Regions from separate parts of the Homo sapiens genome. Here all the other regions are linked to region 1. Evidence: fine-mapped expression QTL. A gene starts in region 1. Each other region holds a variant in brackets. All regions are shown on one strand. Distances are from middle to middle.

What was found. PIP is the estimated chance that this variant, and not a neighbour inherited with it, causes the effect.
Region 2: its variant is the best candidate, but not a certain one, in a credible set for the expression of KLF13 in whole blood (INTERVAL, PIP 0.81).
Region 3: its variant is the best candidate, but not a certain one, in a credible set for the expression of KLF13 in whole blood (TOPMed, PIP 0.66).
Region 4: its variant is the best candidate, but not a certain one, in a credible set for the expression of KLF13 in whole blood (INTERVAL, PIP 0.74).
Region 5: its variant is the best candidate, but not a certain one, in a credible set for the expression of KLF13 in whole blood (TOPMed, PIP 0.81).

Annotation. Positions count from the first base shown.
Region 1 is chr15:31,323,962-31,328,961 of GRCh38, reverse strand. KLF13 (KLF transcription factor 13) reads right to left here and starts at 2,127. Exons shown (of 2, transcript NM_015995.4): 1 at 1,173-2,127. The coding sequence starts at 1,749. RefSeq lists an enhancer at 2,405-2,918 and a promoter at 1,946-3,002.
Region 2 is chr15:31,350,569-31,355,737 of GRCh38, reverse strand. The region is part of intron 1 of KLF13 (KLF transcription factor 13); the gene reads right to left. Among named protein-coding and RNA genes, the nearest start is that of KLF13, 26 kb to the right of the region's middle. The variant G/T (reference allele first, on the strand shown) is at 2,880.
Region 3 is chr15:31,358,585-31,363,753 of GRCh38, reverse strand. The region is part of intron 1 of KLF13 (KLF transcription factor 13); the gene reads right to left. Among named protein-coding and RNA genes, the nearest start is that of KLF13, 34 kb to the right of the region's middle. The variant A/G (reference allele first, on the strand shown) is at 2,391.
Region 4 is chr15:31,370,584-31,375,583 of GRCh38, reverse strand. KLF13 (KLF transcription factor 13) reads right to left here. Exons shown (of 2, transcript NM_015995.4): 2 at 1-3,574. The coding sequence ends at 3,285. Among named protein-coding and RNA genes, the nearest start is that of KLF13, 46 kb to the right of the region's middle. RefSeq lists an enhancer at 767-1,754. The variant G/A (reference allele first, on the strand shown) is at 2,344.
Region 5 is chr15:31,385,614-31,390,782 of GRCh38, reverse strand. It overlaps a transcript of KLF13 not described here. Among named protein-coding and RNA genes, the nearest start is that of KLF13, 61 kb to the right of the region's middle. The variant C/T (reference allele first, on the strand shown) is at 2,970.

The DNA of each region.
Region 1 (5,000 bases):
GTGAACTATTTTACAAATGAGAGACCACCACCCTTGGTCACAAGACAACAGTATTCAGTAGACGGGTTTTGAGCCTGCCCCCAAGGTAGAAGAGGTGAGTGTCACAGAAGAACTCACGTGAGCTCAGAGGAAGCATACAATTCTTTACACCAAAATGGGGAAGGATTGCCGTCCATTAAAATATTTTCATCTTTATGTTAAAAACGAAACAAAAAGGGGGGAGGGAACCGCCACAGATGAATCAACTACAAAGTATCGGGCCGCGCGTGGGAACTGTTGCCGCTGGGCTGGCGGGGGCGGGCGGTGATCCCCAGGCTGGAGGCTCAGCGCCCGCCCTGGTGCAGGTGCCGCCCGCCCCGCACCGGCCCAGGGCAGGTGAGAGGTGGGCAGGCGAGAGGGCAGCACGGAGGATGGGCAGCGGCCAGGGCATTCCTTTCCGGAGAGAGCCTCGAGGCCGAGGAGCCTAGGGCCGGGCGCGCCCCCGCCGGGCCGGATGGGCGGGGGCTCCCACAAAGAGCCGCAGGCGGGGAGCGGGACCCGGGACCGCCCCCCGCATCGCCAAGCGCCGCCGCTGACTTTGGTTACGACAAATTAAACCTTAGAGCGCTGGAAAAATTACAGGAAGAAGAGAGCGAAGAATGTGCCGAGTGGCGAAGGAAACCTTGTCCCTGCGTGAACTTCGCCCGCCGCGCGCCGGGGCCGGCCCCTCCCCTCCTGAGCGCGCGCCCGGGCAGCGGGGGAGGAAACGAGGAGGGACCCCGGAGAGCGTCCCCTGCCCCCGCTCCGGGCGCCCCACCGTCACGAGTGCCGCCTGCGGTCCACACCCAGGCCGCCCGCACCTGCCCGCGCCGCCTCCCGGCCGGGAGGGGTCCCCGCCCCCAGCCCAGATGACTATATCCGCCCCCGCGGCCCCACCCGAGCGCGCCCGGGGAGGGGGCGTGCCCGGCGGGGGCGCGGTCGCCTGGCGGGCGCCGGCTCCGAGAGCCAAGACCCGCCTCGCGCGACGCGCGGGGCCAGCCGCGGGTCGGAGCGGCAGGGGAAGGGGCGAGGCCCCGGGCGTTCCGGCCCGCCCGGCCCCCACCTCGCGCCCCATCGGGGACTCCGGGGGCGTGGTCGGGCAGCTCGCGCCGACCCCGTCCGCGCGATCCGGGCGCCCGCGCCGCCCCACTGACCTGTGTGAGTTCTCAGGTGCGCCTTGAGGTGCGAAGATTTCCCGTAAACTTTCTCGCAGCCCGCGTAGTGGCACTTGTGCTTCCTCTGCGGGGACTCGAGGTCGGCGCGACTTCGGCCCCGCCGGACCCTTTGTCTGAGGCCGGGCTCGCCGCTCCCCGCGGGCCCCGGCTCCCGCTCGGGCTCCAGCCCCGCCTCGGGCTCCGGCTCGCTCCACGCCGGGCTGGGGGGCGCGGCCGCCGCGCCTTCGGCGCCGGGGGAGGTGGGCTCGGGGGCGGGCGGCGGCAGGCGGCAGGGGGTCCTCGCCTTCCGGGCCGCGGCGCCCTCCCTGCGCTCCGCCGGGGCGGGCGCCGGCGCTTGCTGGTTGAGGTCCGCTAGGATCCGCGCCACCACGAAGAGCGAGGCGCTGTCCTTACCGTCGCGGCGCTCCTCGACGCGGGGCAGCGTGGGGGTGGCGGCCACGGCCGCGCCCTCGGGCCGGGACTCCGGCCCCTCCCGCGGCCCGTGCACGACCGCGCGGCTCGACATGGACACGAGGCACTCGGCGGCGAAGTGGTCCACATAGGCGGCGGCTGCCATGCTGCGGGCTGGGGCCGGCGGCGGTGCTCTTGCTGCGAGTCGTCAGCCGCGCATCCGCACCCACGGCCTCGGGAGAGCGGGCGGGGGGCGGGGGCGCGGCGCGCCCTCTCCTCGGGCTGGGCTGGGCTGGGCTGGGCGCGCAGCCGCCTGTGCCGTCACCCGCGCGGCTCCGCGTCTGCGAGGCGCCGGCCCGGCCGGGCACCGAAGAGTGAGCGCATGGGGCGCGCGGGCGACTGGGGTCCCCGCGCGGCGTCAGGGGCGGCCGGTTCTAAGGATGCCGAGCGGCAACGTTAGGGACCACCTCGCCAAGTCGCGGCCGCAGCTTCGCCGCGCATTGTGGCAGGCGGGACAGCTGCCGTGCGCGCCGCGGCTCCGTGTGGGCGGCCCGGCCCCGGGGGTGGGCGGGGCCGGGGCCACATCTGGACCCGACGTCAGCCCCCAGCCACATCCTGGCGGCGCAGGTTACAGGCGGCGGCGGCTGCGGGGAGCTGCGCGCGCGGAGGGGGCGGGGACCCCAGAGCGCGCACCGGCGGAACGGAGCGGTCGCGTGCCCGCGCCTGGGCAAGGGGGCGTGACCGAGGGCCGGGACAGACGCCATTGGTCCGTGAGTGCACGGCCAGGCCAATCCGAGCCGTTAGAGGGGCGTGCCCGGTCCCGGGCCCTGCGCGCGCCAGTGGGCGTGTCCCCTGGGCCGGTGGGAGGAGGGGCGGAAACTGGAGCGGGGCGCGCTGACGCATGACGTCCGGGGGCGGCGGGCCGGGTAGTCGCGGCGCGGAGCGGCTGCTTGTACCCCCCGCGGCGGGGACACAGCGAGCACTTCTCTGCCGGAGCTTTTATGTGGTGACAGCCTTGGCCCCCGGCATGGAGGGGAGCGGTTTCTGGAGGGCGCCATTTGTTCCTCCCGCGATGGGCGCCGGCGGGGAGGCGTGTCTGCCCGGCCGGGCGCGGGGCTGCCTAGGGGCGGAACGCACTCGCGCCGCGCCCTCCGCCGCCGGCTTGCCGGGTGGCCGCGCCTAGAGCCTCAGGCCGCTCGCCCTCCCCACGCCCCTGCCTTGCAGAGCTCCGGGAGTCCGGGCGGGGCAGCTCCCGCGGGAGGGACAGACTCGGGCTCGTTCCTGGGGTCCGGGGTGCGGCCGCGCTGCCCTTCAGCTCGGGTCAGCCCGAGCAGGACTGGCCTCGGCTGGCGGTGAGCCTGGCAGCCCGGGTGGCGCGCCCACCGCGGCCTGTGCCTCCAGAAGCGAACTACGTGCCAGGGCGGCCGGCGCCGCTGCTGAGGGAACGCGGGGCCCCTTCCTCCCCATCCCGCCGCAGGCCCGCTGCCAACTCTTCTAGGCTGCCCCTCTCCCACCGCGGTCGGGGGGGCTTCAAACGCCACCAGCTGCGAGGACCCCGCCCACCGCGCCCCACCCGCCCGCTGTCTGGGCCTCCCGGAGGAAATGCTCGGCTGCGCCCAGCCCGCGCCTCCCAGCCCGGGCTGGGCCACCTTGCCCTTGACTCTCACGGTAACCCCTACCCCAGCCCGCGGCCCCAGCCATTCTCCAGGCCTGGGCCGTCCTCGGAGACGCCGGTGAATAACTTCCCACCGCCGCGGAACCGGGCTCAGCAAACCCCCTACTGCCTCGCCCCGTTGCATTGTGCTTAATGGACGTTCGAAGGAGTCAGCCACCCTTGCTGTGTTCTGAGAGGAGCCTGGAGAATGAAGGAGCCCGGGCACTCACCCTCAGTGGACCCTCGCAGTGGGAGGGGGGTGTCATTCTTCTCTCAGAATTAAGGTTAATAGCCGAGTTCGAGTTCTCACCAAATTAATTTGGGGTTGGAGCTCAGTAAGACTGGTTTTCAGGTAACCGACGAGGGACCGAAACGGCCATTCTGGGTTGCGTGTTACGGTGAACAGCAAACTGCATGGATGTTTGAGCACCCTCAGTATCTGTAACTAAAACCCTGAAATGCGGTCTCGCTGATTGAGTTGCTACCCTCTGGGGAGACTAAAGGTGCTGGACTGGGTCTGGTCCCTTTAGGAGGGTCTGTGCTTGGTAGAAAGTAATCGTGTTTCTTCCAGGCAGATTGTGTTGATGACATTTAATAAGAGACGTGTGTCCTGACCAAGTAATGATTCGGAATGTTCCTCTATTCCCACCACATGTCACAATTAGTCACTTCTTAAGGAAGGAGTGGTCCTACACCAGCTTATCAGCCACCCATACCCTCCTGGCCCCTTTCCAGCCAGCAGAATTCTCCCCAATCTTCAAGGTGCCACGTCTCCCCACTGGGTCACCCCAGCCGGCATACACAATGGTAGGCCGTCTAGAGTCTGCACTATTCTAGTATTAGGCTACTACAGCCATGAACAAAACAGGCCTGCCTTGGGTGAGGGGATGCCCTACGTGGTCAAGGGTCCTCTGCATTGATGCACCCCCCTAAGAGTTTTCCAAGAATGTGGGTCCCAAAGAATTTTGACTGTGCTCTGTGGCATTCTGTATAGAAAACTGAGCTCCTTGGCTGGTTTCTCAAAAATCCACTCATTTGATGATTGTCGTGGTGTTCACTGACTTTATCCCAAACCTACATGGAAGGGTCTTCCGGACAGACAGCTCTTCCCCAAAGAAAATCTCCTCTTAGCTAAGAGTCCATGTTTTCTTTTCTAAGTAAGATTTTGACAGAGATGGCATATGTATATGTGAGGGCTGGGTCGTCTCGTTTCAAATGGAAGCAACAGAAAAGCAGAGCAGGTGTGTCTGGGGCGTATAGAGACTGAAGGCTGAAAGGGTGGTTGAGTTTCTGGGTAAAGTTGGTGGATGGTTAGTATGTATTGACTTTAACTTCCTTCTGGAGCATTTGTTAGAAGGCAGAAATCCACAAAGACAGGGAGAACAAGAGAGGAAGTAACAGCAACGCAGTTCTTGAAGCTAAAATACTTAGCAGATCCAAGAAAATGAAACCCTGAGATAGTAGCTAGGAAGGAAAGCTAAGAACATACTCCATGGAATCCCCCAGAAGGTTCACTAATGGGTGGCACTACGTACCTCTGAATGTGAGAGTAAACGGGGGTGAAAATAAGATTGGCAGAACGTCAGCTTGAGGAGCACTCAGATGCCCATATCTGCACCCCAATTTCATGCAGCCTGACAACTGCCCCTTCCTTGTTCTGACGAAAGGCTGGATATTTATGACCTGAAAAAACTAAAAGGCAGCGTCTTGGGTAGGTGGACACCAGGCACAATTAAGGACAGAGGTACGGTAATAGGATCAGG
Region 2 (5,169 bases), 27 kb before region 1:
GCAACTAGCATTTACTGTCATGATCCCCCAAAATACCGCATGCTGGCTCCATCCTAAATATCCAATTATCACATGGGTGGGAGAAGGGTGCCTGCAGGCGCTCATGTGCCATCATGGGAAGTCAGGAGATAATGCCTAACACTCTTCTACCATCAAGAAGAGCCCCTATGAGCACGTTATCGAGCTGGGAAAGGTAAATACCAAAGGCAGTAGCTGAAGAAGCTGGCAGATGGTGGGGGTGACCTGCTTATCACAATGAACGTACAGAAAGACAGGATCCTTAAGCTATGTGTATTACCACATGCACTACTCTAACACAATTTTTAACATAATTTACAAAATGGGATGGGTATACTGCTCTCGGCAGTCCAGCCTTTCCTTAGAGCATCACTTTCTTCTCCTAGTAGCTCCTCTTCAGAAGCCATTGGAGAGTGCTGGCCCTGCCATCTCCCCAAGGCATGTGGAGATGACACCCTGCCCTTCTGCTCAGGGGAGGTGAGGGACCGTCCACAGGAGACACTTACTGAGCACCTGGCCTCTTCCTCACCTATCTGTGTTACCTTAGTAGCACTGTTGATTGTTTCGGTTGTTGTTGCTTTTGATCTCATAAACACCTGTGTCCTGGTTGCCTTCTTTTTACCTATGACTAGTTATAACTCGAGGCTGAGGGATGGCGAGATGGGCTCCAACACTTCTTTAAATGGTGGCTCCAACCCCAAGCCCGGGGGTTTTAGGGCTGGATCCACACAATTCCCAATACCAAGTCATGTGGGGTGACTTCAGGCTTTGGATTTTTTGCTTCACACTTACTGTTAGCCCAGTATGAAAATTAGACGTATCAGGCTTTCATTTGAAGATGTAAGGCACTGAAATATTTATGGACAAATTGATATTGCATCTGGGATTTCCTTCAAAACAACTGGAGAGGACGGTGGTGGGGGAGGGGCAGAGATAAGACTGCAGGGGGCTAGCAGGTGCTGAAAATGTGGGTGTCCTGAAGATGTGGGCATCTGTCTGAAGTTCTCCAAACAGAAGTTTAAAAACTATTAATATGACCAGGTGCAGTGGCTCACGCCTGTAATCCCAGCACTTTGGGAGGCCAAGGTGGGCAGATCACTTGAAGTCAAGAGTTCAAGACCAGCCCGGCCAACATTTCGGTGAAACCCCATCTCTACTAAAAATACAAAAAATTAGCTGGGTGTGGTGGTGGGTGCCTGTAATCCCAGCTACTTGAGAGGCTGAGGCAGGAGAATTGCTTGAACGCGGGAGGCAGAGGTTGCAGTGAGCTGAGATCGCGCCATTGCACTCCAGCCTGGGCAACAGGAGTGTAACTCTGTCTCAAAAACAAAAACAAAAATTACAAAACTATTAATATATGGACAAGGATTGCAACCCTAGGCCCTGCCTGGAGGCCATTCCTCCTCGCTGGATTTCAGCCCATCCCTCCTCTGGCTCTCCCCAGGCCTGCTCACCAGCACACCACGGTTTGGGGTTTGGTCAGCTGCTTCTCTCCCTGCCCCAGGCAGGCAAAGTCCCATCCTGCAGGCCTGGGCTGATGTCCTGGACTGGACATTGCTGTCAGTCAACTGCAGCCTGACACTCACTGGGAGGGCAGAGCTGTGCCAGGCTCTGGGGCCAAGCTGGGTAGGGATTGGATAGGCCTGAGGCCTCCACACTGACGCTGTATCCAGGGCCTGGCTGTAGTCAAGTGCCACGTCTGACCCCACACTACAACCTGGGTCCTGGAGTCTGAAGGGCTCAGGGGAGTTAGGGACTCTCAGGGGTCTTCAAGCTAGGCAGGGCTGTGGGGGTGTACTTTTTCCCCAGAAGCAGCCTGGTTTCTGTTTAAAAGAAGGAACAGTGAAGTCCTCTTCTCCTCTGAGGCCCATGCCTGCAGTATAGAGTCCTCGGTGAGAGAGGGGAAGGGTGTGGGGGTTGCCTGCCGAGAGCCCCCTGCCCCAGGCTTGGCCACAGCGAGCCACTCCACAGCCCTGCCAGCTCACTGTTGGAACTCTGGCCACAGCCACCACAGCCCCCCTTCCCAGCAGCTATTCTTGGTCTGTGTCTCCCTTTGGGGGGAGGATAAGAGTGGAAATGATCAGAAGCTAAAATTAGCAAGAGGCAAACAATTGAGGCCAGGAATCTGAGGTCAGCTGAGGACAACAGCTTGTTCTCTGCAGCCCCGAAGTGGTTTTATAGCAATAAAGGGAATTGAAAATGAAAACAGATCTGGAAGCAGCCCAAGCCCTGGTGGGACCAGGCCCAACACAGCCAGCCCCAAGTGGGCAGGCCAGATGGCAGGGACTTTGCCAGCCCAGGCCCCCCAACCTGGGGCTCCCCTCTTCACAAGGGGGCCCTCTACAGCCAGGAGGCAACACCCAGAGCACCTGCAGCTACGGTTACAGAACGCCTGGGACAGGTTTCCCACGCACTTAACGTGGGCGTGACTTCCTCTCCAGGGGAGGCCCAGCACAGGCGGCTGTAAACACCCCCAGTAACTACTGGATGACCAGGGCCACAAGCCCCTGCTTTGATACCTCCAGGCACTCCCCCTTTAACAGGCCCCAGCAAAACTCCCTAAGTGACAGACCAGGAAATGAGGCCACAAAGTCAGATGTGGAGCCACCCTTGAGCCCAGCCCCCTGGCCCAGGGTCCCTTCCCTGTCACTACCTCTGCAGTCCCTCCTCCCCTGGAAGGCCCACCCAGAGCAAGCCGCACACTCCAAGGCGGCATCAACAGAGCCCACAGCCTAGGTGGGCTGCATGGTGGCTGCATACAGACGGGGAGGTGGGTCCAGCCTCGTCATGCTCCACGGTCAAGAAACTGCCCTCCCCACAAAAACTCCAAGTAGCCACCCTGGAGGTCCCAATGCCAGTGG[G/T]CTCTGGGTTCTATCTGGTGATGCTCAATCCTAAGGGAACTTGGCTCAGCCTAGGATGCATGGGATTAAATACAGCCTTTTATTAAGTTTTTATTCACTGATCTCTGCCACCTAACAGCTTGCAAATGTCAGAAGAAATAAATCAGCCCAGTGGTCATAATTCAGAGCTGGGAAGCACACAGGAGGCTGGAAATGCACAGACCGGGTTGGTAGACCCAGCCCTGAAGATACTGCTCCTGTCCCCAGGAGAGAGTACATGCTGACAGGCCCTTCCACGGGGCCAGCACAGGGCCAGGAGCCAGAGGCACACCAAGTGGCACCACATACAGACGCTAATCTCAGCAGCTGCTGAGGCTGCTGGCCGACGTCATGGCCCATGGAGAAGGCAGGCATGGAGCCCGTGGCCAGCCCACACCTGGGCCAGGCAGAGCTCACACAGCCTGTCCTTTCTCACTGGTACGGTCAGGTCTGTGCATTCTGAGCGGGACCAAGGGAGCCTGTAGGGCAGACACTGGGACTGAGGGAGGTAGAAACCCCTGAGCGTGGCCTGCAGCAGGCAAGCCTCTGCTGTGAGACAATCTCACCTTTCCCTGGACTGCAAGATCTCAGGACCCGGCATCCAAGGCTGGATCACAAAGCCTCCAAGATCTCAGTGTCCAGGGGAGGCCTATTCGGAACAGTCTGAAGCTCCCAGGTACGGGGCAGCGTGGCGACCCCTCTGTTGTGTAAACTCCAACAGTGACTTTTGTTCACTGCAAAACCCTTTTTTTGTTGTTGTGTGTAAACTCTACTTAAACAGTGACTTCTGTTCACTGCAAAACTCCCCCCGCCTCCCTTTTTTTTTTTTGACACGGAGTCTCACTCTGTTGCTCAGGCTGGAGTGCAGTGGCGTGATCTCAGCTCACTGCAACCTCCACCTCCTGGGTTCAAGCAATTCTCTGCCTCAGCCTCCTCAGTAGCTGGGATTACAGGCGTCCGCCACCACACCCAGCTAATTTTTGTATTTTTAGTAGAGACAGTGTTTCACCATGTTGGCCAGGCCAGTAGTCTTGAACTCCTGACCTCAAGATCTGCCCACCTCAGCCTCCCAAAGTGCTGGGATTATAGGCATGAGCCACCGCGCCCGGTGTGCAAAACCCTTTTAGACATCCAACAGCCACCCGCCCACTCTCCCTGCCAGGGTGCATACCTGGGCGCTCTCATGCCTTGCTTGCGGGTAGCACACTCATCCTTCCTTTCTGAAAAGAAGCAACCTGCCCTGAAAATGCACATTCCTTTGCAGGCTCCTGGGAACTCCCCCTGAAAATAATGAGGTGGACGGCTGTCCCAGGACAGCCAATCACTGGAGCTCTCAGTGCAAGACAAGCGCACACGGGGCAACCACTCAGACCAGGTTAGAAACCAGTCAGTGCCTTGGGGTTATGAGCCTAACAGGATGTTAAAGCAGGAAAATGTAGAACAGAAAATGACTTGTATGGAATGATCCCACGTTTTAACAGTGGTGACTTGTGAGTGGTGGGATTAAAGTTATTGATTTTCCTCTTCATTAATTTTCCTTGATACTTTCCTGTTTCTCAAATCATCCTTAATTAACATGCTTGACTTTCACAAATAGAAATAAAAACAAATGCCAGGCACTCAAATGATGATCTTTTGGCAAGGCAACTTCTTACAACAGGAACACACTTACAAATCTGACCCCAGCCCAGAGCACCAAAAGCAAGTCCATGATACGGGCTGAGAAAAGACTTTCCAACTCAGGTTTCCCAGGCCTTGGCCCAACTCAGAATCTGCGCCAGGTCCAGGGATGGTGGATTTGGGTCATTTTACAAAGCAAGTGGTTCCTGGAGACACTGGGGAACTCTTACTCGGATGTCCATCCACACACTCCCTCCCAGCCTCCCTGCTCTCGCTGTCATCATCATGTTCTTACACAAAGGCCATTAAACATTAGGCTCCTTACTTACTCAAAACTGCTGCTGCCCAGAAGGCGCCTGGGCGAAGAGTGCCAGGCCTGCATTCTGGCCTGGCCATGGGCGCACCTCAAGAGCCTGCTTAGCCTCACCTTCTCCACTGGCATGGCCACCTCTAAGGCCCTTCTCAAGGGCTGTACCCAGACCAAAGCTTCCTTGCGGATCCTTCAAGGTCTGAAAGCTGAGCCAAAGAGCCAGTGCTTGTGCAAGTCCCAGACTTCACCAAAAAAGGGGGTGAAGTTGGGCCAGAGACCACCTTACACGCCAAGCTACTTTCTCTAAATACCCAGTGGATGGAACAGGTACAAAGAACCAAG
Region 3 (5,169 bases), 35 kb before region 1:
AGCACTTTGGGAGGCTGAGGCAGGAGGATCACCTGAGGTCAGGAGTTCAAGACCAACCTGGCCAACATGGTGAAACCCCGTCTCTACTAAAAATACAAAATCAGCCGGGCGTGGTGGCGAGCGCCTGTAATCCCAGCTACTCAGGAGGCTGAGACAGGAGAATCACTTGAGCGTGGGAGGCAGAGGTTGCAGTGAGCTGAGATCACACCACTGAACTCCAGCCTGGGTGACAGAGTGAGACTCAGTCTCAATCAATCAATCAATCTATTTGACTGCACAAAACAGTATACTATACTTCTCCATGAACAAAGTCACCATAAACAAAGGCAAGAGATAACTGACAAAACTGAGAGAAAAAATATTTGCAGCTCCTATCACAAACGGCTAATCTCCAATACAGAAAGAGCTCACAGGAATTTTAAAAAGAAAAATATCCAACAGAAAAATGGGCAAAGCCCATTCATAAAAAAGGAACTACAAATGGCTCTCAAATGCATGAAAAGATGCTCCACCTCATCCATCAGGAGCTAATGGCAGATGAGACACACTGAAATGCAGCTTGGTAGCTTATCACCTTGGTGAGGCTGCAGGTAAGCAGGCATTCTTTGCTGATGGGAGTACAAACTGCTACAACCTCCATGGAGGGCGATTTGGCAATACCTATTAAAATTAGAAATGTGCACACCCTTTTACCCACATCTGAACTTTTGACATCCTAGCCTACAAACGCATTTGCACACCTACAAAACGGGATATGCTCCTGATTAGTCAATGCAGCAGGAACCTGAAAACAACTCATGTCCTTCCACTGGGGCCTGTCAAATAAATTATGGAACGCACATATAACAGAACACTATCGCAAAGAAGTAGAATGAGTTCTTTACAAACTGATATGGAAAGATCTCCAAGCTGAGTGAGGAAAACAAGGTTGAGGAGAGATGACCAGCAAGGATCTACGTGCGCCTTGGCCTGTATGTGCAGAGAGAGGGTCCCTAGGAAAGTAGGAACAGAGATCACCCAGGGGAACACTGAGCAGATGGAGAACAGGGAAGGTTGACAGAATTTTCCCTGGGGAAACTACTTAAATCTTTTAGATTCTAAAACACACAAATGCATTTCCTATTCAAAAAGTTAAATTCAAAACAAAAAATCCATAGCAAACTAGAAAATGCTAGCCATCAATAATGCCAATTTAAAAATCAGACATTCAACACTCTGGGCACATTACTGGCCCCATTCTGTATTCCCTATTTCAAAGCACAGTTCCTCATATTACCCCAAGAGCTCTCTTAAAATAACAATGGTCGCCCAGGCAGATTCTCCTCAGAATGTGCTGGGCAGTGGCTTCCAGGATGAGAAACTCAAAAATAGCAATAAAGTCCAATCTAGCTTTGTAGGAGATGTTCCCAGGGCAGGGCTCCAGGGCTTTAGAGCCCCTGGGTCACGCTGCAAACTGTCCTATTGGAGAAGGGCCCTCCCTGATAAATTGTTTGATAGGCCCAGCAGTTTAGAACGGGTCAGACCTAAAAGGCTATGGGTGACAAATATTCAGCAAAGGATTTAAACAGAAGCAGTTCCAGAGTTGTAATTCCACGTCAGAAGCCCCCTTCAGGCTCCTGAATACCACACTCCTGCCATAAGACCACTTTGTGACACCACTGTGGGCTGAAAATTAGCCCAGGTGGATGGCAGCTAGGAGAGCCAAGTCCATCCAGCCACTAGGATGCAGATCCCAAGTGCCACTGTAGGGGCTCATGAGGAGTAGGAACCAGGGAATCTGTGGACTACTGGGAAAGGGTTTTCTCTTGCACCAAGAGAAAAGGAAGGAGGGAGGGAGGGAAGAAAGAGGGCAGAGCACGTGGTGGGTAGGGAAAGGGACACAGTATGGAAAGGCCTCTTGGGCCTGCCTCTGGCTGTGACGTCTGGGGTGGGGGGTGGGGGGCACCAGCCTTGACAGTCACAGGGGAGATCTGCAGAATCTCACAGAGAAGTCCAACTGCTTCTTGACACGAACAAGCACCTGCACAGCCAGCCCCAGCTCTGCACCCCAGGTGCCCGTGCTCCCAGCCGGCTCTCTAGGCAACTGAGGGAGGGGCCCCTGTCTGCAGAGCCTTTGGCAACCATCGTGGCCCACTTCCTCTTCCTGTGTCTCCCCTCCCCCAGCCTTCATTTCCTCCCCCTGCCCTCTCCTTCTGTGTCTCCTGGGGGGGACCTTGCCTGCAGGGACCCCACCCTGCTAAGCTCTGCTACAGACACTCAATGGCACAAACAGCTGCATGTACACTCTTTACAGGGGTGCAGCTTTTACTTTTGGCCTGCACTGGGCTCATCTGACTCTACCAACCCGGAAGACAGGAAAGTGTTGATGTGAAACCCTTGTCAGAGGTGAG[A/G]AACCAAGTGACCTCACCAAGGTAACACACCCAGAAGGGTGGGCCTGAGGCTAGGCTACACCGGGAAGAAAGACATTCTCACAGCCCCTCCCCAGCATGGAACAGGAACACTGCTGCCCACGTTCACGTTCCAGGAGGAGCAAGCAGGGGCACCCACCCACAGTGCGGCGAGGCTACCCTCTGCACCCAGGGGCCCCTGCTGCCCCCACAGCCAGGCTCTACGAGGCCTATTTCACGGCAGGCTTGCCCAGGCTGGGGGCATGTGGGCCTGAGGACCTGTGGGGGACCTCCACGGTCCCCAGCTCCCCTGCAGCAGGAGGCTGCAGCTGAGGAAGGAGCCAGGCAGTTCCCTGGAAGGGCCCAGCGCTACCAGGCAGCGCACTCAAAACAATGGCACTCAGAAGCCCTGGAGGAGCCTCGGCAGGCTCCTCTTCCAGGCCCAGCACCTGCCACCTGGCCGGCTCCAGGTGCACAGCAGGCTCAGTTTTCTCAGGAAAAATGTGGCAAGGTTTCCAGCAGAATATAACGAAACAATGTATTCTTCAGGGTTGGTTTCACAAAGTAAATACATCCGAATTAAAATGAGCTTGTAATTTGGACGACGGGCCTAAAAAACGCCTTTGGTTTTTGAGGGAGCCGAGACAAAACAACAACAACAACAAATTAGACAACGGTCTGTTTTTTCTGAAACAGGTGAACAGTGCCGGGGCTTCTGCTAGGAACCTCCAGACCCCCAGGGAGGAGCTAGAAAGCCCCCAGACCTCTCCTGCAGCAGCCCAGGCCCATGGAGCCACCAGGGGCTCTCGGTCTTGCCCACTAGGAGCAAGTTACCCCTACCCTTTGGGAAAGCCCTTGTGTTCAAAAACCCTCTTGCAGAGAACAGGTGACCTGGCAGCCCCGGGCCCTGTCCCTCAGCCCTGCCCGCAGGTCTAGTAGCCCCCTACATCCTGCTCAGGCTTGTCGCAGCCTAAGTGCGTTGGAGAGGGCCTGAAACAGAGCCCCACTGCCTGCCATGTGGGGAGACCAGTGCTCTGGGGGGCCACCTCTTCTCAGGAGACAAAGCCCACCCTCTTCCCGGCACAGGCCTGCCCGCTGCATGTCCGTGCCCACACCTTCCTCCCTGTATCCTGCTGGCCCTGTTTCCTAAGCCCTTCCCTGTCCTAACCTAGAACAGGGCCCTAACCTTAAGGCAGCTGACCCCAGGGACACCAGCCGGGAAGAAAAGCAGTGCCACACTCTGCACTATCCCACGGCCAGGCCCCCAGAAGCTTCAAGGTTGGAGTGACCCCCTCTGCAACAGCTCTGTACGGGACTCCAAGACCTGAGGCTACCTAGGTCTGCCTGATGCCAAGGGAGGGCTAGCAAGAGCTGGGAGGAGCCACTGGGGCAGGAACCCTGTTCTGTGTCCTACCTGCCTCCCTCCCCCAAGACCACAACATGCGGGGTGGAGGGCTCAGCGCTCCTTGGTGTCATCCCCAAGGTTACTGGAACCAGGCTTCACAATCTGTTGGATGGGGTAGACGAGGGAGAGTAAGCACACGGAGCCAGCCCAGCTGTCTCTCTCGAATGTTCTTCTGAACCACCAATGTGAGCTGCTGATAAACAGCCCCTGGGAACGTGGACAGGGAAGAAAACAGACTACCAAGTGGCTGAGCCCCACCCTCAAATGCACACATGAAATGCATATGCCAGAGCTCTAATTGCAGGAAGGAAACAGAGGTTACCTCAGGAAGATGGGATTTGTGTGTGACTGTCCTTTCTGCATTTCTGCCTTCATCAAATGAATCACTTTGGACAGTCAGAATTAATGCAATAACACTATGTAACAAAGTGGTGTATGTACACACACGTACCTTTCACCCAAGCTCCAGCTCACCACTGGGACTGCTTCCACAGAACCCAGCACCCCAATCCCTAAGAAGGGAATAGCACTAGTTTGCATGAACCAGTACACTGCCTGGAAAGGTTAAAAGGACCACATGCCAGAATTTCATAAAGGTGTTTGCTCTCCTTTTGCTAAGGGTTACAAAACACACTTGAAAATTTCCGTTCTCAAGGTCCCTTTTAAAAACAGAAATAATAGAATACCAATGGTTTCTGCCAACAGAAGGCCAGAAGCCACCTGAGACAAGGGCTCTGGAGCTTCTCTCCTTCACGCACACCCGAGTCACAACCCTTATTGCTCCTCAATGGATAAGTAGGGAGACGTATATCGGCCCCTTGCCACAGAAGCTTCCAGATCATGGATTGTGCAAGTGAAGGCCTTCTCCAGATGAACGGTGCTACCTGTGGACTCATGAGAGCTGAACCCAAAGAACAGACATTTCCATTTCCTTTCCATTGTGAGACCCTCATCACTAGCTGCCTCCCAGGGGAAGCCAGAAGCATCTTCCCTGAGCACGGTAGGGTGACGCATGTCCAGCTGACCCCACTGCCCCCGCCTTTCCTCTGCCATCTTGAAGGGAATGTTCCCTGGCTTCAGGAGCCAGTGTGCGGTTAACATCCTTGTTCTGGGCATCGGGAGGCAATGTGACTGCTTGCGTACCAACACAGCCCTGATGGCTGGTGATAGCCCAGGGGTGACATTCCTATGCACCTCTTCAGATATTTTCTGAAACACAAGGCAAGACAGGAATATGAGGTTGGAATCCACAATTACAGAGCCAGGTTTATTTAGCTGATAAAAATGCTCTTCATTTGAGGCTGATCAAAAGTAAAGGCAATTTGTATCTAAAATACATAAAGAACTCAATCTCAACAATAAGCAAATGCCAATTTA
Region 4 (5,000 bases), 47 kb before region 1:
AGGCCTTTTATAGGGGAACTCTCCCTTCACTCAGGCAACCTTCACTTTGACATCTCTGCCCCTATGGACCACGAGAACTGAAGTCCCAAAATAAGGGTTTGAGTTTTCACTATTATTTCTATGAGTCCTATGGGTTCCTCAACCCCACCAAAACTGGCAAGCATGGCCATAAACCACAAAAATGGAAGACCCTGAAATAGACGCAGTCTGGGAAAACATTCTGCATGTTTGAAGAAAATGGAGGCTGTTTCAGGAGGGTCCGCCTTGTGTGCCCGCCTCAGTGGAGGCAGCGTTCCAAGGCCCACCACCCTCTTCCACAGGAGTCCCTCACTTCATGATGAAATGGAAACCTGCCCTTGAGGACCCCTGTGAACCGTGCCTGAGATTCATGGGTTTCTCCCTGCCCTTCAAGCGAGATGAGTTTAAGCCGCAGATGATTCAGGAGGGTCTGGCCAGGAGTACCCAGGAGGATTTCTCTCCTGGTGCCCTACCCCCATTTCCCAGTCCAGGCCGGGGCCTAAGGACCGCACCCTGCCATTAAACGAGAACCACTTTGGGAATGAAGACACGCTCTTATGCCAAAAATAGCCAACGCCTGCATATTTCTGTTTTAAGGCAATGTTACCCTTCCATCTATCAGACGGAACAGCCCTGGGTCATTTAAAGGAAAAATTAAATTAAGTGCTCTCTTTGGAAACAGCCAACACCCGCTTCCCTCCCCCACCCCCCGCCCTGCTCTAAAACAAACCAGCTCTTCTTTTTATTCCAAGATGACTAGGTTTAGAGTCCTATCTTTTCCTTCCTATGTGCAGACAGATGTGGAGCTAGAAAATCTCCTTCCGTGACACCCTGGGCAGATCACAAGGACGTCTGACCCCTCCCTGGAGAGCACTTTGCCAGCCTCCCAGGGACGGGCCACTCCCTCTCCCTGCCTTGGGGAACGGTGGACGGTGAGTGCACCAAAGGACTTTGGAATAAAATTCCTGAACCTGGAATGTGAATTCCTGAGACATAAAATGTATTCAGAGTGTGGCTTTCTCTGCCTCACACGAAAACAACTTTGGGAGGGACCTCACTTTGGAACTGGGCATGAAGATCTTTGCACCACAAGCACCCAGGGCTCTCTTCTGTCAAGGTCCCTACCAAATATTCCACTCTCTCTCCCAGACCCAATGCAAGCAGGGAGGTCAGAGAGCCCCAACACAGCATGGCAGCCAGAGGGACCAGCTCCGCATCCAACCAGAGTGGAGGTGACCCTCTCCCTGCCAGTTCCCACCACAGCAGAAACAATGCCACTGCCCAATTTAGGGTCCATCGGTCTACCTAGAAGTCACCACCACGCTGTCGGCCAATCCCAGCTGACACACAGTGGTAAGAAGCGGGCACCTGACGGCATACTGTGCCTGAGCAGCTGCTGTGGACAGAGCGTACCTGTCCACTCTGGAGCCAGCCAAAACAGTGACCATCAGCTGTGGGCAGTGGCTAGGCCTGGGTCCTGGGTTTGTGCTGCACCCCATAGCATGGCAGGGCTGAGTAGAAGCAGGATGGCCACAACCAAGGCACGCTAGGCCCAGGAAGCCCATCTGTGGCCCTCTGAGGTCCCAGGGCCGTTCCTTTGCATCAAAATAGGTACTCATCAAAACAGGTATCTCTGGCAAGATACCCTGAGTCCACCCCAATCCCCCCACCCCCCCCAACACACGCGTGTGTGCTCACGCGCGCACACACCCACACGCACGCACACACTCTGTCCTGGGCCCTTGTATTTACAGGCCTCAACTCTCAGGAGGAAGGGAAGGTGATACCTGGGCCACAAGCCTGGGTCAACACTCCAGCCATCTGCAGAGGAGTTTGCTGGACCACGGCTTGACTGACCCCCGCCCAGGGCTCGAATCCCAGCCCAGGACCCAGCTCTCTGCTCCTCCTCTCCTGCCAGGAGAAGGCCGGTGATGGGGCACTGGAGCAGCCCCACCAGCTGGGTGTGGCCTGGAGCCTCCAGGCAGGACAAGGAGAAGCAGGAGGAAAAGGGAGGAGGAGTCCAGGGGAAACGGAGAGGCTGGAGGTTTGCTAAGTCTGAGTTGGGGACATGGTGGGTCTGAGAAAAGTGTTGCCCGCAACTTTCTATCTGGCATTCCCTGCGGAGGAAATAGAATGCGCGCTCTCCGACAGCATTTCCTGTAACATCCGCGCCACTCCTGAAAAGGTCCAAGTCACAATGTTCCGGTCTCTTGCTACAGAATGGTCTCTGTGAAGCATGGTGCGCTGCCACATGCACAGCCGCTCACACAGACCCTCTGATGAGGAGGCCCCATGACCTGCCCACTGTTTCCAACAAAAGTGCCC[G/A]TGCGGGCAAACTCGGAACTGGATGTGCCACCAGGAATTTCTAACATCTTTTTAGAAGACCAGAATTCCCCATCAGAGGCCCAGGTATAGTAGTGACAGGGTCCTGCATGCCTTCTGCTGGGACACGGAGAAGCGGAGTCCTGGCAGGTGTGACCCCGGCCCCTGCCTCGGAGGTCGGACGGTGCAGTGCTACGCTCAGCCAGGGCTGGCATCTCTGCTTCCAGTGCTCCCTAGCGCCGTAGGAGAGGGCTCCTGAAGGCGGGGTGTGAGGCAGGCAGGGTGCAGAGGGCTGAAGGCCCCCTCCACTATCCCCAAGGTGGAGTGCTCCTCCAGCCAGGGACAGCTTTAAGGCATCCCTCTGCAGGGGCCTGTCTCAGAATCAGCTGCGTTGCAAGCCCAGCCAGGCTCGTTGGGCAGAGGCCAGAGACTGGGTTGGGGGCTGGGCAGGAAGAGGTCAGGCCAGCTGCTTAGGAATCTGCCCTGGAGGCACAAACGTCAGTGAGCACATCTGCTCCCAACAGACCCACAGGCTGGCCAGCCAGCCAGACGCTGAGCTCCACCAGACTGGCTGGCCTGCTCTGTCCCCAGCGTGTTCCCGAACCTAACAGAAAACTCCAGAGTGCAAATCTATGTACAGAGTAAGGCGGCAGGAAGGGGTGTCCTCACTGACCTCGTGAAACGTGTCCATCCCTGAGAAAGGGGGTTCAACAACGCTGAATCTCAACTTTGTGGGTGTATCTATTGTGCAATTTGGTGGGTGGTGTTTTTTGAAATTTTTGTGTTTTTTTTGTTTTTTTAACAAATTTACTTTGACACCTGAGGTGAAAAAAATTGTTTTTTCGTGGACTTTGCATCAAGTTCTCTCTCTTCTTTCTTATTACAAAAGGAAAGGCCAGGGACTCACGAGGGGGTGGGAGCGGCTGCTCATGGCTGTGGCGGGCTCAGGGCGAGCTGGCCGGGCTGATGGTGGGGCTGCTGGCGTCGGAGCGGCTGTAGTCGCTGAGGGAGCCGGTCCGCGAGCCCCCGCCGCGCCGCTGCAGCATTCCCGGGTGGAAGTTGGCGTGGCGGCGCGCGTGCTTGGTCAGGTGGTCGCTGCGCATGAAGCGCTTCTCGCAGATGGGGCAGCTGAACTTCTTCTCGCCCGTGTGTGTGCGGTAGTGCCGCGCCAGCTCGTCGGAGCGCGCGAACTTCTTGTTGCAGTCCTGCCAGCTGCAGGCGAAGGGCCTCTCACCTGTGGGCACAGGGGCAGAGCATCAGTATCCGCACCTGGCCCCGCCTTCACACCCTCTCTGGGGAAGGGCCCGCAACACCCAACACCCTGGTCTCTCAACACCCCTCCCACATGCCCCACCTCCAAGAGCTTCTGTGACAAATCCATCAAGGCAGAGATGAAGGTGGGCCCCTGCCCTCCCGCCCACGCCTGGGATGGAGGCAGAGGACACGGCCTAGGATAAAACAGCATTTCAGGTGCTGAAGCTGCAGGGCCCATGGGTAGGTACAGGTCAGGGCCCCAGGCTCCTGGCAGTGGACCCCCTAAGTACACCACAAAGCAGGCTGCACTACACACCCATGCCGGGCCAGTGGTCTCCAACGCCTGGGGGTTGCAGGCCCATGCCCTGGCTTCACAGGCCTCCCGGAGTCCAGCCGCCCATGCTGCTCCATGGGAGCCACACTCTGCACCCCTGCAGGGCAGGAAGGCAATTCCCATTCTGACCCTCCTCAGTCTAGTCTGTCACATGAGAGGGTCAGCGTAGGTGAGTTCCGGGGCCTGGAATTCTACAACCAGTCTGCTGCTCCTTCTCTCACAAAAGTCCCAAAGTGACCAACCAGGGACGGCTGGCAGAGCAGGAGAATGAAACAGCCTCTTGCAGACCCAAGTGTGGTGACAGACAAGGGCAGCAACCCAGAGCACCCCATTATAGGGGCCTGTGCCGGTAGGGAGGAGGCAGAACACAGTGGGGTGGGAGGTAATGAAGGTTGGCTACGGTCAGGATGCTGCTCCCTCCTTCCCATCCCTCACTCGGAGCGGGAGACAGGCCAGCATTTACCCAGGCAAACTCAACACACAAAACTCTGAATCACAAAAATGACATCAACTGCTCAGGAAGAACCAGGGTGGGGGGCTCTGGCACCCCAGAAACGAGCCCTTCTTGTATTAGGGGTGGCCGCAGGGCTGCCCTTCCTACACGGTCTCATCCCCTCTCACCCCCATACAGACCCTAAAGTGACTGCCAGTCACTGAAGCTGGTCTACCCATGTTCAACAGAGGAAACCCACTCACCCACCCACCTTAAACACAAGCAGATACCCAGGGATGGCCAGACAGCCAGGGAGAACCAGCAGCATGGAAAAGAAAGGCCAAGCGCAATGCAACCACCAACTCTAGAGGAAAAGAGTGAAGCCAGGAAAGAGAAGAAAATTTTAACTTGAAATTTCTGATTAGTATTCTCTGAGGAATTTGAGATGAAATTTGATGCAAAAGCAAAGAGGATACCATACAAAGAAGTTCAGAGAGCAAAAACGGCCAGGCGCGGTGGCTCATGCCTATAATCTCAGCACTTTGGGAGGCTGAGGCGGGTGGATCACTTGAGATCAGGGGTTTGAGACCAGCCTGGCCAACATGGTGAAACCCCGTCTCTACTAAAAATACAAAAATT
Region 5 (5,169 bases), 62 kb before region 1:
AAGCCTGATTCAGTAAATCCACCTTCAACTAATAGGAATTCCAAAAGAAAAGAATGTAGAGGGAGGGCAATTAACAATACAAGATTAGAGGAAAGCGTTGCAGACCTAAGGAACAGACCTAAGGAGACATGGGTCTGCAGATGGAGTGCTCCGTGGAATGCAGGATCAAGGAAAAAATGACCTGCCTCTAAAAATATCTGAACAAAAGTGCAGAGCAACAGGGAGTAAGATTGGTTGACAGATTTCGAAGATGGTAAAAATAAAATGTTCACGGCAAAGGCTGAGAACTGCAGTGCATCAGATCCCCATCAGTAGCAATGGTTGTAAGAAGATGATTGGCAAGTAATTTTGAACCTTGTTTTCTATACTAGGCCAAATTATGAATCAAGCATGGGGTAGAAAAAAGATACTGTTAGACCTCCAAGGACTCAAAAAAGCAGAAACCCATCGTCCCATGCATCCTTTCTTGGATAGTTACTTGAGGATGTATTCCAGCAAAGTGAGAAAGAAAGCTAAGAGAAAGACCTGGGATTGACTCTTGAGTGATCCACCAGAGGGTGGTAAAGGGAGTCCGGGGCTGTGCTCCCACTCAGGGACAAGGAGTGGGGGTGCGGATCCATGGGGTAGGAGAGGGCAGGGGAGGTCTTGAGAATAAAAGGGTGGCAAAACTGAGGCCACATCAAAGGCACATTATTATTCTGTTATTAATATTATTCTGTTAATAAAAAGGAAGCAAGGCAAATAAAAGCTATAGGGAAAATGTATATAACAAAATTCAACTTCCACTGTAAAGCAAACTAACATAGGATAGGATTTTCAGTTCCTGAGGGAAGGCAAAATGAGTTCGCCCCATTTGCTCTGGATGCTAAGAATATCTTCCTTGTGTGGTTGGAGACGGTGGTGGTGGTGTTGATGACTTTAGGCCCATAGAGAAAGAAATGTGCCCCTGGCCCAGCGGTTAGCTGTGCAGTGAGTAACATGTAACAGTGACATGCCCAACTGCCTAGGGGTGTAGAGGCTCCCACTGTTGCAGTTCGAATCCACTGGGCTCCACTTTTACTATAGACTAAGCTGCAAAAGTAAAGGCTGAGGAGGATGGTGTTGTGGGACCTAGAGAGAGTGGATAGCAGAGGCCATCCTACTCCCACCTTCCATGAAGGGGAGTCAAGATGCAGACCAAAGGTATGGTAGTAAATATAGGGGAGTAAGAGCTAATGTAAAGTTTCAGAGAGAATCTGCAGAAGAGTTAAAACACTCCTCTAATGTAAACACAGGGGGAGGAGGGAGAAGGTGCAGAGGGTAGAGGGGACTGGAGGTAATTACAGTTGATGCTTGAACAACATAGGGGTTGGGACCGTTGATCCCCTCCCCCATTGAGTCAAGAATCCACATAAAACTTTTGACTCCTCAAAAATTTAACTACTGATAGCCTGTTGACGAGAAGAAGCCTTGCTGATCACATGAACAGATAATTAACACATCTTTTGTATGTGAGATATATTCTGCATTCTTACAATATGGTAAGCTAGAGAAAAGAAAATGTTATTAAGAAAATAATTATAAGAAAGAATATATTTAGTATTCATTAAGTAGAAGTGGATCATTATAAAGGTGTTCGTTCATTCTCATTGTCTTCATGTTGAGTAGGCTGAGGAGGAGAAGAAAGAGGAGAAGCTGATCTTGCTGTCTCAGGGGTGGCAGAGGCAAGAGAAAATTTACATGGAAGTGGACCCACGCAGTTCAAACCCATGTTGTTCAATGGTCAACGGTATTCATCTTTCATATTAGGAAGCCAGTGTATTTTGTCAAATACTCATAAATCACAAAGTAGGAGGACAAGTATTTTATTAACACTGAAGGGAATAACGACAAAAACAAATTAAAAACAGAAGCGATAAAAAGTTTAGTCCCCTAAAAAAAAAAAAAAAGTTTAATCCCAAGGTGGTAGAACTGGTGTGTGTGGGGGGAATGGGTAAAGAGACATTCTTATCATTAGTTTTTTTTTTTTTTTTTTTTTGGGATTTTTTAACCTTGTTCGTATGTATGATTAGAATTCCTGAATTTTAAAAATAAAACCAACAATCAAATTACTTCCAAAGTCCTTGAACATCATGACTCAATACTCCATAAAATAAACATATTTTACTGGTTTTCTTTTTCTTTTTTTTTTTTTTTTTGAGACAGAGTTTCGCTCTTGTCACTCAGGCTGAAATCTTGGCTCACCGCAACCTCCACCTCCTGGGTTCAAGCGATTCTCCTGCCTCAGCCTCCTGAGTAGCTGAGAGGGATTATAGGCACGCACCACCGCACCCGGCTAATTTTGTATTTTTACATGGAGAGACAGGGTTTCTCCATGTTGGTCAGGCTGGTCTTGAACTCCTGACCTCAGGTGATCTGCCCTCCTCAGCCTCCCAAAGTGCTGGGATTACAGGCGTGAGCCACCACACCCAGCCTTTCTGTTTCATTTTTAAAATCATTTTCACTGGCACTTTCTCAGTTTTACAACTGTCACCAACTGTACACAGAGCATGCATTCTATACCCTAGACATGAAGGGAAAACAAACAAACAATCAAACAAACAAACAGTTTCTAATGCTTACCTAAAGTTACAGTGCCAGCTGATGAGAAGAATAATAACCACCCAGGCCCATCATGTTCAGGCACTTCCAGGTACCAGGACAGATGACTTCGACTCCTTCCTGACTCGTGGCAGCATCCTTACCTAGTCTCAGATCAATGAAACCTGTTCTTGTTTTAAAGGCCTCCCAGCAAGGAGCTCAGCCTGTCTCCTCTCCGGCTGAAGCAGTTCTATTTTTATTCCATGCTGTTTGATGGCTCATGTCCAAGCCAGTGGCTGTGCTCCAGGTGCCAGACTCCCTGGCAGCACCCCTATTATGGGACAAAGCTCTGCCTGGTCCAGGCAGCAACCTGGTCACAGCCTGATCACAGGCTGGTCACAGCCCTGTCA[C/T]GGACATCTGTGCACACTTCAATCTGCCCGTTGTAGGGACAGCCTGCAGGCCTGCCTGAACCTGGCCAAGCCCTGATAACATGCAGGAACCACATCTGTGAACCATGTCACAGACTGTCAAATTGTCAAACATTTCACACCTACAGTGAATACAAAGAAAGGAAAAACAAGCCCCACTTTTCCCACCACCCAGTTCTCGTACAGGCAGACCTCAAAGATATTGTGGGTTTGGTTCCAGACCACTGCAATAAAGCAAATATCACAATAAAGTGAGTCACACACATTTTTTGGTTTCCCAGTGCATATAAAAGTTATGTTTAAACTATACTGTAGCCTATTAAGTGTGCAATAGCATTCTGTCTATAAAAATAATGTACATACCTTAATTTAAAAATACTTTTTTTGCTAACAAATGCTAACAATCATCTAAGCCTTCAGCAAGTTTTGGTCTTTTTCCTGCTGGAAGGTCTTGATTCAATGTTGATGGTTGCAGACTGATCAGGGTGGTGGTTGCTGAGGTTTGGGTGGCTGTGGCAATTTCTTCAAATAAGACAACAATGAAGTTTGCCACACCCAATTGACTAGTCTTTTAGTGATGGACTTCTCTGTAGTGTGCAATGCTGATAGCATTTTACCCACGGTAAAACTTCCTCCAAAATTGGAGTCGGTCCTCTCAAACCCTGGCACTGCTTTATCAACTAAGTTTATGGAATATTCTAAATCCTTTGCTGTCATTTCAACAATGTTCACAGCATCTTCACAAGGAGTAGATTCCATCTCAAGAAACCACTGTTTTTGCTCATCCATAAGAAGCAACTCCTCATTCATTCAAGTTTCATCGGAAAGGAGTCTTTTTTCCTGAGCAGTAGATCTCAAAGTGGGCTTAAAAATATTCAGTAAACCATGCTGTAAATAGACGTGCTGTCATCCAGGCTTTGTTCTTCCATTTCTAGAGCATAGGCAGAGTAGATTTAGTGTATTTTTAATGGTCCCAGGATTTTCCGAATGGTAAATTAGCACTGGCTTTAACTTAAAGTCATCAACTGTGTTAGCCTTTAACAAGAGAGCCAGCCTGTCCTTTAAAGCCAGCCATTGACTTATCTCTAGCTTTGAAAGTCCTAGATGGGATCTTCCTCAAATAGAGTCAGTTTCATTTACATTGAAAATCTGTTGTGTAGTAAAGCCACCTTCATCAATGATCTTGGCTAGATCTTCTGGATAACTTGCTGCAGCTTCTATAGCAGCACTTGCTGCTTCATCTTGCACTTTTATGTTGTGGAGATGCCTTCTTTCTTTTTTCTTTTCTTTTTTTTTAAGATGGAGTTTCATTCTTGTTGCCCAAGGTGGAGTGCAATGGCACGATCTCGGCTCACTGCAACCTCCGCCTCCCAGATTCAAGTGATTCTCCTGCTTCAGCCTTTCAAGTAGCTAGGATTACAGGTGCACGCCACCACGCCCAGCTAATTTTTTGTACTTTTAGTAGAAACAGGGTTTCACCGTGTTAGCTAGGCTGGTCTCAAACTCCTGACCTCAGGTGATCCTCCTGCCTTGGTCTCCCAAAATGCTAGGATTACAGGCATGAGCCACTGCGCCCAGCCTAATACTTTCTTTCTTTAAACCTCATGAATAAACCTCTGCTAGCTTCCAACTTTTCTTTTCTAGCTTTGTAGCTTCTCTTAGCCTTTGTAGAATTGAAAGAAAGTTAGGGACCTTGCTCTGAATTAGGCTTTGACTAAAGGGAATGTTGTGGCTGGTTTGATCTTCTATCCAAGCCACTGAAACTTTCTCCATATCAGCAATAAGCCCATTTCACTTTCGTATCATTCATGCATTCACTGGAGTTAACACTTTTAAGTTCCTTCGAGAACATTTCCTTTGCATTCACAATGTGGCTAACTACTTGGCACAGCCTACCTCACCTTTTGAGACTTCCTCACATGGCTTCCTCACTAGCTTAACTATTTCTAGCTTTTGATTTAAAGTGAGAGACCTGTGACTCTTCCCTTCACTTGAACACTTAGAGGCAATTGTAAGGTTATTAATTGGCCTAATTTCGATATTGTGTCTTAGGGAATAGGGAGGCCTGAGGAGAGGGAGAAAGACAGGGAAAGGCAGGTTGGTGGAGCAGTGAGAACACACACATTTATCAATTAAATTTGCCATCTTATATGGAAGTGGTTCATGGCACTCCAATTACAAG